Linked DNA regions of Homo sapiens: region 2 is linked to region 1. Evidence: fine-mapped expression QTL. A gene starts in region 1. The other region holds a variant in brackets. All regions are shown on one strand. Distances are between the middles of the regions. Region 1 holds the start of FCRL6 (Fc receptor like 6). Region 2 holds the start of SLAMF8 (SLAM family member 8).

The links.
Region 2: its variant is fine-mapped to the expression of FCRL6 in whole blood (INTERVAL, PIP above 0.99).

Annotation. Positions count from the first base shown.
Region 1 is chr1:159,799,295-159,804,669 of GRCh38, reverse strand. It overlaps FCRL6 (Fc receptor like 6), which reads right to left and starts at 2,310. Exons shown (of 10, transcript NM_001004310.3): 1 at 2,215-2,310. The coding sequence starts at 2,245. LOC105371464 (a long non-coding RNA gene) reads left to right here. Exons shown (of 3, transcript XR_922195.2): 1 at 1-2,132; 2 at 2,523-2,722; 3 at 4,108-4,189.
Region 2 is chr1:159,823,912-159,829,286 of GRCh38, reverse strand. It overlaps SLAMF8 (SLAM family member 8), which reads right to left and starts at 2,414. Exons shown (of 5, transcript NM_020125.3): 1 at 2,349-2,414. The coding sequence starts at 2,388. The variant C/T (reference allele first, on the strand shown) is at 2,647.

The sequences.
Region 1 (5,375 bases):
GATCTTGGAGGTGGGATTACAAAATTGGTTTCTGCAATCAAAACAGCAGCCAACTGGGAACATACACAGGGGGTGACACCTGCTTACAGCAGTTCCTGCAATGAGGGCCCAGGGACCTCCATTAGCTATAGGCTGAAGATGAGGTGACAGTATCATGAAGTGGCCAAGAGCTATGGTCAAACCAAGTTGCGTAATAGAATTCCGAAAAATGAAGGCAGGAGCCCCTGCCAACTCTAGGAGCAGGATAATTTCCTCTTAAAGTTTCTGAGGGATCGGGAGATATTTATCTGGGAAAGATGCAACAGAGGAAAGACACAAAATACTTGGTGGGCTAAGCTTAAAAGAAGGGGGAGACTTATTCTGAGTTACTTTATAGGACAGAAATGGAAACTAGAGGGATCATGGAGGCAGATTTCGGCTCAACATGAAGAACTCTCTCACCACTGAGCTCTAGCACTGTGGAACAGGCTGCAGTGCCAAGCTGCAGCAGTCACATTGCTGGGAGGGCTGTATGGGACCCCATGACACCTCCTATGGACGCTGTGTGAGAATGCGGGGAGCAGCCTCCAGTGGTAGGAGGGAAGTTGGCTAATGTTCAGCTCAGAAGAAAATTAAGCCTAATTTCCCAAACTTTAAATACATATTTCACATTCAGCCAGGTCCCCACATGCTCAATGTCAGGATTCCTTTCCTCCCGGAGCCCTGACAGCCAATAATAGTAATAGCCACCAATTTATTATGACCACACCCTGCTCTTGAGAGAGGAAATAGCAGCTCTACACTTATGGTAAGATAAATGTTGCTACACACCCAGCCCCAGTGTCTGTGTTTTAGGCTGTTTTTCCAGGGTCCCTGAGCATCAAGTGGGACCAAATTTGCTGGTGCTGGATTCTCCATTACACTGTGCACCAGTCAGCCGGTCACTGATTCCCTTCCTCTCCTCATTTGCTGTCTGTCATCCTCGTCCTGGGTTCCAAGCTGGAACACTCTCAGACTGTATCTAGACAAGTCCAAGGGCTGTTCCTTTTACAAGGTAGTGCCGGTAGTGCCATTTGCCCCTGGGAGTCTTCTGCCTGGAGTATATCCAGGCATTAGGCTATCCTGTCCCCGCCTCAGTGTGAGCATTAGACCTTTTCATTTGTCCAAATGGCCATTCATAGAACACACGAGTAGCATGCTATGCTGGAGAAGGAACATTGAGTGGAAGGGGCATTTTCCTCACAGGGTCAAATTCTCACAAACTCTGTCCAGGAAGAGGTTATATTTAGGAACAGTTTTGCTTTTCTAGTTCAAGGAATACAAATAGCAAGCAAGCTATTGGGACCAAGAATTAAACAAAAAGTAGGTCCACTTGGAAACTGTAAAGTGAAACAAAATATATGCCAAATTATTTCTTTTAGGTATAAGGGGGGTGACACTGGCTGAGACTGAGCTGGGTCTGGGGGAGCCCAGTGACCCTCTGCGTGCAATCCTCTACCCTTAGACCAGCTCTCTTAGTTACAAGTAGCCTGCATGAGAAGAAATGGAGAGAAGAGAGAGAGAGACATGGATCAGACAATGGAGTTGATTCTTCAAACCAGCCCCATGGATCTGAAACAGCTCCCAACAGAGAGAAGATGTAGGCGGAAGAGAGACAGTCAATTTGAAAAGGGCTTTGGTTACTCAGAGCACAGGCCTTTCAACCAGGTGAGAGGTCTGGCCATTGTTACCTGGTTCTAAGAAAATGCTGAGGCTCCATAAAAATATGTCACCCTGTAAAATTCCACCTCCCATTGCTGAGCAAAATGCCTGGGACTGTTTCCCCTCATTTCCCTGACTCCTTCCCTGTTGCCCCCAGCAGCCTCCTTCCCTCCTGCAACCTCCATTTCCTTTTGAGACAGCTCTGATTAGTATTTTAACCTGATGTCACAAGGTAGAAATGTCATTGGGAAGTTAGGGGACTTTGTAATGTGATTTTCTGCCTCCCTAATTTATCTCTGACATATCAAAGGGCTGCGCTGCCAAGGACCCAGGACTACGGGGTAGGAAACACTGAGGAGTTTCTCCTACCCCAGTGCCCATCTCTCCCAAGCATGCCCAGGTGCACACACCTGTCTTGAGCTCCAGCCACAAACCCACTGGAATTGGGAAAGGTAAGATGAGGAACTTGGTGTCTCAGGGATGACTTACGGTCCTTAGTGCTCCAAGAGGGGATGCCCATGCTCGTTGACTTACCAAAGAGCAGCACAGCCGTCCAGAGCAGCATGGGGCCTGTTCTGGCACAGCGGAGGGAACACAGGTCAGAAACAGGTCAGGGCGAAGCCGGCAGAGAGCAACCAGGCCTCAGGACCGAAGGTGGGTGGGTGGCCTGAGCTGGGTGGTGCTATAGCTTGATAGCCAAAATAGGAAGTGGAAAAGAAACTTACAAAGCTCTAATTGATATTTCCTCTTTGGTTGAAGAAGTATTACATGAATAAATTTTCCTGAACACTAAGTATGAAGGAGTCGGTAAATCACTAATAAATCCCTGACATTTTCTGCAGCTTCAACAAGCCTATGCCAGGGAACTAGGATGGAACATGGTTATGGGACACCTCCATTAGAAAGGTCCAGAGACTGCCCGAATTTGCTTGGCTTCAGCGTCATTCAGCCTGGGAGACAGCGCAGCACTGTAAAACTAAGATCATCTACCCCTTGACCACCGAGTGACCTCCCAGCTTCCAAGGAGCTCCTGTCTCCAGAGGTAAATGTGTGTGGATGCTGCAATGCGATGGAGAAGTGGAGCCCTGAGGATGCTTCACAGGATCCTCAGTTCAGGAGGGAATCAGACATCGATGAGTCTGGAGTAGAACACAGATGGAGCTTCGGCATCTGAGGCTTTTAAGACTGTCAGTATGATTTTGAGAACTATTCCTTAAAAGACACCATTAAGAGAAGGAACAGGCAAGCTGTGGTGTGATGAGATAGTTTAAATACATGTAGCTGACAAAGGGCCCACAGAAGAAATATAAGAATTTCTGCAAGTCAGTAAGAAAAGGACAGACAACATACTAGAAAAATGGGCAAAAATAATTGGATAGGTACTTCACAGAAGCAGATATCCACGTGTCAAATCAACATAGCAAAAGGAGCTAGACATCATAAATCACCGTGGAAATGCAAATTTAAACCATAATAAGATACCACTACACCTTCCATAAGAATAAGGGAGTGATACCAGCTGAGACTGAGCTGGGTCTGGGGGAGCCCGTGACCCTCCCCATGCAATCCTCTACTGAGTATTGGTGAGGATGTGAAGAAACTAGAACTCTTGTACACCACTAGTGGGAATATAAATTGGTACAGTCACTAGAAAATGGCTTGGCAGAATCTACCAAAACTAAACACAGGGATCCCTGATGGCTCAGCATTTTCACTCCTGGGTAAATGTCAAACAGAAATGTATACATATAAGCCTGAAAAAACATATACAAGAGTGCTCATAGCAGCATCATTTGTAATAGATAAAAACTGGAAATTATTCAATGTTCCCTCAACAGAAAAAGAGGTCACACATTCTCATCTCCTCTGTGGACAGAACATGGGAGTTCACGGTGAAACACAGAGTCAGGCAAAATACTAGGAAGCATTTTCATTTTCTTGTTTCTTTTCTTTCTTTTTTCTTTTTTTTATTGAGAAGGAGTCTTGCTCTGTTGCCCAGGCTGGAGTGTAATCTTGGCTCACTGCAACCTCCGCCTCCCAGGTTCAAGTGATTTTCCTGCCTCAGCCTCCCATGTAGCTGGGATTACAGGCATGCACCACCATGCCTGGCTAAGCATTTTCTGACAGTAAAGTTCTTCCTGGAAATCTTTAAGTGAGAAGTTCTACATAGTCTGATGGAATTTGATGTGCCTATTGCTGAGGCCAGGAATGGACAGAGAGAATTTTCTAAGTTTTCTTGCCCTAGATTGTCTGACTCAGTGGAAGTGGGAAACTAATTTGACACTGCCAGGCATTTTTTTCGGTGACTCAGTTGTTTAGGAAAGAGGGAAAAGTAGTGAGGAAGTAAAGTAGGAAGTAGAAATCTTGTCCACTCACCTAAAGATGGCAACATTCATATATTTTCCTCTATCGTTCTCTTTCCAACAGATCTCCTGAGTTGTCTTCAACTTCGTTCAGCTGCAGGTCCTGTGGGTGTGTGGAGTCCCTGCAGGGCAGCAGCTGGGGCAGGAGACAGAGGGGATAACCGCAAGTGGTCTAGCTTGCAAACATTTGTGGTTTGCACACAGAACGGATGAAGCCTCTGCCCTGGCAACTTCTACCGGGTTCTAGCGGCATGAGAGTGTGAACTGCATCTGACTTTTCGCACTTCCCCTGCAGAGTGAGATGCTGTTGCACCTTCAAAGGTGTTGGTGAGCTGAGCCTGAGCTGAGCTGGCTGCATGTTGTTCCCTTGGGGATGAAGGTGACCCTCAGGGAACAGCAACAGGGCTGCTGCCCAGGTTTGGAATCTTCCAGGACTCAGGCTGACCTTGAACTGAGAATGGGATGGGTTAGTGGAGATATTAAAACCCATGATACTAACACTAATACTCTAAGGGAATTCAGGGGCTAAAAGGAGGTGGGATGAAAATAGAGTGTGGATCCTCATCCAGAAGAGGCTCCAGGCCCAGGTGCTCTCATCACTCAAAGAGTCAGTTGTCAGGGCGGCAGTAGTCAGGGACAATGGCCTTTGGGGAACAGGATAAGTCATTCCAGTTCCGGAGGCGAGACGGGAGAGCAAGAGAGCTTGGGGTAGGGGACAGCTCTGCATGGTAGGCCCTAGAGCCAAATATCTGAGCTTGAATCCTCACTCTGGATATGAATCTGGTGAGAGACCTTGGGTAAGTTTTTTAACCAGTCTGTGTCTCAGGGTCCTTATCTCTAAAGTGGATACATAATTACACCTGCATCATAGGGTTGCTATGAAGGTTAAACAAGATTAAAAACATAAGATGCTCTCAGACAGCAAGATCTAATAGAACTTTCAGTGATGATGAAATGTTTTCTGGGCTATCCAGTTCAGTGGCCACAGAGAGCTATTAAGCACTTGAAATTGACTCATGACACAGAGAAACTGAAGTTTTAATTGTTTTTACTTTAGTTGAAATTTAAAAAATTTAAGCAGCTACATGTGACAAGTGTCTGCCTTCTTGGATATTGCAGGCTTAGACCAATGCCTAGCAAGTAGGAAGTGTTCGGTGAAGGTGAGCTATTGTAAGCAGTGTGGGTCAGGAAGACTTAAAGACCAGACCCTTCCTCCCAACCTTAGTGTTTTTGGTGAGTCCCAGAAAGATGAAGTAATTTGTACAAAGGCACTCAGCCAGAAAGCCTGTTGGGGTTGGAGTCTCATCCACAGCTGGAACTACAGGCCTAACG
Region 2 (5,375 bases), 25 kb before region 1:
TAGAGCAATGGGGCGTCTCAGGTAGGTTTTAAGCAGGAGCGTAACAGGATTAGATGCATGGTTAGAAAGATCACTCCAGCAGGGATGTGGAGAATGCACTGGAGGTGGGCAGGACTTAGGCTGTTCATGTTAGTCCAGTGGAGAAGTGACGGCAACTTGAATTGAGGAAGGGAGCAACCGGGATGGGAAGAAGTGGGAGGAATTGAGAAACACGAAGATGGTGTGTAATCAGTAGGATTTGGTAATAGATTAGCTCTGGGGAGTGAAGGAGAAAAAGGAGTCGAGGACGGCTCCCAGGTCCTTGGGATCCACTGGATGTTATTCTCTGTGATCCAGAACAGGAGGAGAAACAGACAGGGGGTGAGAAAGCAAGATGCTGTTTTGGGGGACTATATTTGAGTCAGACGTGTATGGGAGACGCTTCTCCTTGAAGTGCCCCCCTGACTCCTTTGCTGACTAATTTCTGCCCACTCTTGTAGCATCACTGCCTCCTCCGACCTCCCCTATCCCTCATAGGTAATGTAACCAAGAGAGGTTACATATTCTCTCTTGTGTTCTCACAGTGGCCTGGGGCCACCATGCTGACTACCCTTATCCCTCTATTCTTATTGCCTGTTTATGAGTCAGCATCTCCCACTAGACCGTGAGCTCTTTCTCCCCATCGTTTGCTTCCAGTGCCCACCACTGTTTAAGAACAGACTGTGGGAGAAGCCTAGTAAATGGTATTGAATAAATGACCTACCCTGCTGAGGACTGACCCTATGCCTGTCGCTGGCACAGGGTGTAGGGAAGAATAAGAGGTGATGAAGTTTTGGTCAATGAGACATGATCTGGATGGTTGCTCAGTCGGCCATGATAATTCCGGTCCCCCTCTGCCTCACTGTCCTCCAGGCCCAACAACCTCCTCTCACACTGGAGATGACTTCAGTGTTAATGCAGAGCAGGAATGTAACACACAAAGAGAATTGCACTGGATGTCAGCCAAGACCTAGCTGCTCCTACCTGCTCCTCCTGGTGCTGCCACAGATCAGCTGTGTGCCCTTCCACACATCACCCTGCCCCAGGCTTCAGTACCACTGAAAAATAAGGGGTCTGTACCAGGTCAGTCACACAGATCTTTGATCATTAAGGGCCATTTGAAAAATTATTTTTGGGCTGGGTGTGGTGGCTCATGCCTGTAATTCCAGCACTTTGGGAGGCTGAGGAGGGCGGATCACTTGAGGTCAGGAGTTTGAGACCAGCCTGGTCAACATGATGAAACCCTGTCTCTACTAAAAATACAAACATTAGCCGGGTTTAGTGGCAGTGACCTGTAATCCCAGCTACTCAGGAGGCTGAGACAGGAGAATCGCTTGAACCCAGGAGGCAGAGGTTACAGTGAGCTGAGATGCACCATTGCATTCCAGCCTGGGTGACAGAGCAAGACTCCGTCTCAAAGAAAAAAAAAAAAGGCAAATTATTTTTGTCTCACCAAACAGACCAAGGCCTTTTTTGAGGTTAAGGTGTGATTTCCTGCACATGTTTAGAAATATTGAAGAAATCTGCAGGCTTTGGAGCTCTCAGGGCCAGGAACTCAGGCAAGGAGATGAAACAAAGCAACCCAAAGTCCCTATGAGCCTCTGATGTAAACAATATCATCTTAATCTTTGCTGCACCCCATAAACCCTCATCCATGGCCCGGCAGTGTTGACCCATGTCATGTTGGCTGCTTGTTGACCAAGGAAGGGAACTCAGGCATCAGATGGATAGAGGGATCGCCCGGTGTGGAGGAGACCCCGTGTATCAGCCATCCCAACATCACACCACCGTCGGCCACCCCTAAGTCCACGTGGGCCACATTTAGCCTCTCTCATCCCTACTTAGTACTTGCCTCCCCTTATAAAGGCCTGTAGGGAGGGACCTCAGCTCCCCCACAGGCTGTTGAAAACACACTCTGCTGATTGTGGGGAACCCTGCTCTGCCCTGCCCTCTGCTACTCTCCTCAAACTCTGCAGAGTTTCTGCATGCTAACACTGCCGGGTCCTCACCATTCTCACAGCCGACTTTCTCTCCAAACCAGCAGTATCACCCACTGGCTCCGTTTTTACTGCTCTGGGCCACAAAACAGCTCATGTCTCACAGATAAGAATACCCCTCAAGCTGCCACCTCCTCCCTCCCAGGACCCTGCATCTCTTTGTATCTGCCTAGCTTAAAATGTTGCCCAAGAGCTTGTTCTAGTCTTTCCTACCCACCCTCAGCTTCTGGGTTCTCACCCAGGTCGAGGGATCCCTGCCCAGACGTCTGGCATAGGCAGCTGGGGAGGGGCCTTCAGCTCTCCGAGGACAGGCTATCTGCCTGCCCCACTTACCTTCCCAGAGAAGCAGACTCCACAGGGGCCTCATGACCATCTTTCTCTGGAGAGGCAGGCAAACTCCCTCGACAGCCAAAATCCAGAACCTCCCAGGCCGAGTGGATGCACGGGAGGAGCTGTGGTCCTTCTGGAAAGTCCCATGTTCAGAAGGAGGAATCTTGACTCAGAACAGGATGTCCCAAAAGTGAAAACATCCAGAATAAAGTGGAAGTTGTCCCTGGGCCTCTCTGGGCTTACAGGAGCAGATTCTTGTAAGTCAGCCTCTTTCACATGCACATGGTTGGCTAACACGTGG[C/T]GACAACAGCCCCCACACAAGCCACATCCTCCTTGCTGGATCTCGCTGGCCTTCCTGCATCTCAGCCTGCCTCACTACTATCTGTCATCCTCATTCTAGCTTAAAATGCTTCTGTGGCCTCCCGTGGACCTGAGGATGAGGACTAACTCTGCTCTGCATGCAGGCCCTCCTGAGTCAGGCCTTCTTCTCCAGGCTGGTCGCCCACAGTCATTCTGCCCTCCAGCCATCCCAAGCCAGAAGGCCTCCTTCTCAGAACTACTGATTTCACACTTCCCTGTGTTGTACTTTCCCCACCACCCCGACTAGGCATGCTGCTCCCTCTATCCTTGCAAACAGAACATGGCTGTGCAGTCGGCGAGGACATCCTTCCAGGCTTCCTGACCACAGGCAGGTGAGAGGCCCTCTCCTTGTGTCCTGTGCATGCCCACACCTCCCTCTTTACTCTTGCTGTGTTGTTGATGACAGTTTTCTGGTTTTCACAGACTGTTTAGCCAGTCTTTTGTTCCCTTCTGTGTTGCCCTCAGTGCTTGGCACATTACAGATGTTTCATGAGTATTTGTTAAGTGAGTGAGTACATTCTAGACATGGCTACACATCTGGCTTTATGTAAGCCTTGCAACTCTCCTCTGAGAGGATCATCTTGTTACCTGGTTAGAAATGGGAAAATGTGAAAACCAGAGTGAGGTTAGGCCCCTTGCAGAGCTCACAGAGAGGCAGAGCTGGAACTTGAACCTCAGCCTTTGAAGTGTGGTCTATTTTGCCACAGTTATCCCCTCCTCATCCTGTTTCTCTTCTCACTTCAAGTTTCTTGGTTTCTTGCCAGTGAAGGTTTTTAGAGGACGTGTTGCCCCTGAGGAAAATTCCTGCTAGTCTGGAGTGTGGCTCATCGTATCTGGTCCTGCACAGCCTCTCGCCTGTCAATCAAACTGGACACTGAGCTTTGGACTCAGCCAGGAACTAGGCATATAGGATGGGGTGGGGGTGGGTGGTGAGCAGGAGGATTTTGGGATAAGGTTTTTGCCCTCCAGGTACTCACAACCAAAATGTAGAGATAGGTACACCAAGGAAAGTGAAGGGTTATCTGCAGACAGACACCACTTTGTGCAAACAGGTAGTCAGTCCTCAGAAGTGGGTGGGAAAGAGGGCTTCGCGGATCTGGGCAGGGGACGCTTCTTGAGAAGGTGGAATTTGAGCTGTGCCTTGAAGATGGGCATGGTTTAGATAATATGAGGAAAGGAGAGAGCCAGAGGTTGGGGGTGGGCTCTGGGCAGGAGGGGAGAGCAGAGCGTGCAGGGATGTGGCTGTGGGAAAATACCAAGTAGGCTCCACAGAGGACAAGGGACAGCAGACAGGAATCCTTTAGGGCTGGGTGGGAAGAATGGAAAAGGAGGTTGGGGGCAGATTGTGGAGGCCTTGAAAACTGGGTTAAGTTCTTCTGGAGACTAGTGGCTCTCAACTGTGTTCAGCACTTGGATTCTCAGAGATGCCATCAGGGTGAGCTAGGGCCCAGGAATCTGTGGTTGTAACAAGCACCCCACTCAGCGTGAGTCTGTGGCTGGTGGACTGGGGGACCGCTCCGGAAGCACTGCTTGAAGAGAGGGGCTGTTGCATGTTTTAAGTAGGAGTGGGAGGACAGCAGGCAGGGCAGGTTGGAGAGAACAAAGGGGCCAGGGAACCTGAACAACAGCTGTTGTCTGTTGTGATGGTCCTGTGAGAAGGAGAAGGGACTGCATATGAAGGAAATGTCTAGAGTACTGAGGAAAGGGCAGAACTGGGAAGCTGCCTGTCATGGGGGTGGAGAGGGCAAGGGAGGGAACTCATTTACGACTCCATTGCCAATTCCGTCATTCATTCCTCAGGCATTTATTGAGCATCTACTTAGGTGCCAGGACCTAGGGACACAGAGATGAAAGGCTCAGCCCCTGACCTTAAGGAGTTCACAGAAGATGGTATATATAAACCAATAATTATAACCAGTGTAGCAAGAACAATGTCAGATGTGTGCCCTGGAGGCTGTGAGAGCCGGAGGACACCTTTGACCCTGCCAGGGCAGGTGGGGGTCTGGGGAGGGCTCTGTGGAGGGGGTGGTGTTTGAGGTGAGACTTAAGAATACAATCAGATGAGGGTAGGAGTTCAGAACTCAAGCATGATTCAGACTTCTTGAGTTCAAATCTTGGCTGTGAAACCTTGAGCCAAGTAACTTCCCTGTGCTTCAGTATCCTCATCTGTGAAATGGGGAGCAATAACAATACCTACCTCTTAGTACTGCCAATGAACACATGTGAAGGTTTAACTTGGGGTCGGGTGCAGTTAGCACTCAAATACTAACTATTGCTACTAAATGGCCAGGGAGAGGGAAGTGGGGAAACCTGGGTAAATCAGATAAAGGCATGTTTCAGGCTGGGCAGTCCCCTGTTCTGACTCTCTGCTCCCAGACTGGGAGCTCCATGAGGGGAGGGATCTCCTTCATTTCTGCACCCTGTATATTGCCAAGGACAGGCTTTCGATGAGGCAAAGCCCTCCATGCATCTGTTGGATTGAATTGAATGATTCTAAAATGTCAAAGCCTAGGACTGGGAGGGCTGTGGGATGCAGGTATGGGGCCAATGTGGAGCCAGGTCCCGAATTCCTCTGGAGAAGACAGTGGGCAGTTACGTTCCCACTCCGCAGAGTTGGTCACCCATAGTGGTCCATCCAAGCAAAGGAATGAATTGCAGCCCTTCCCCCAC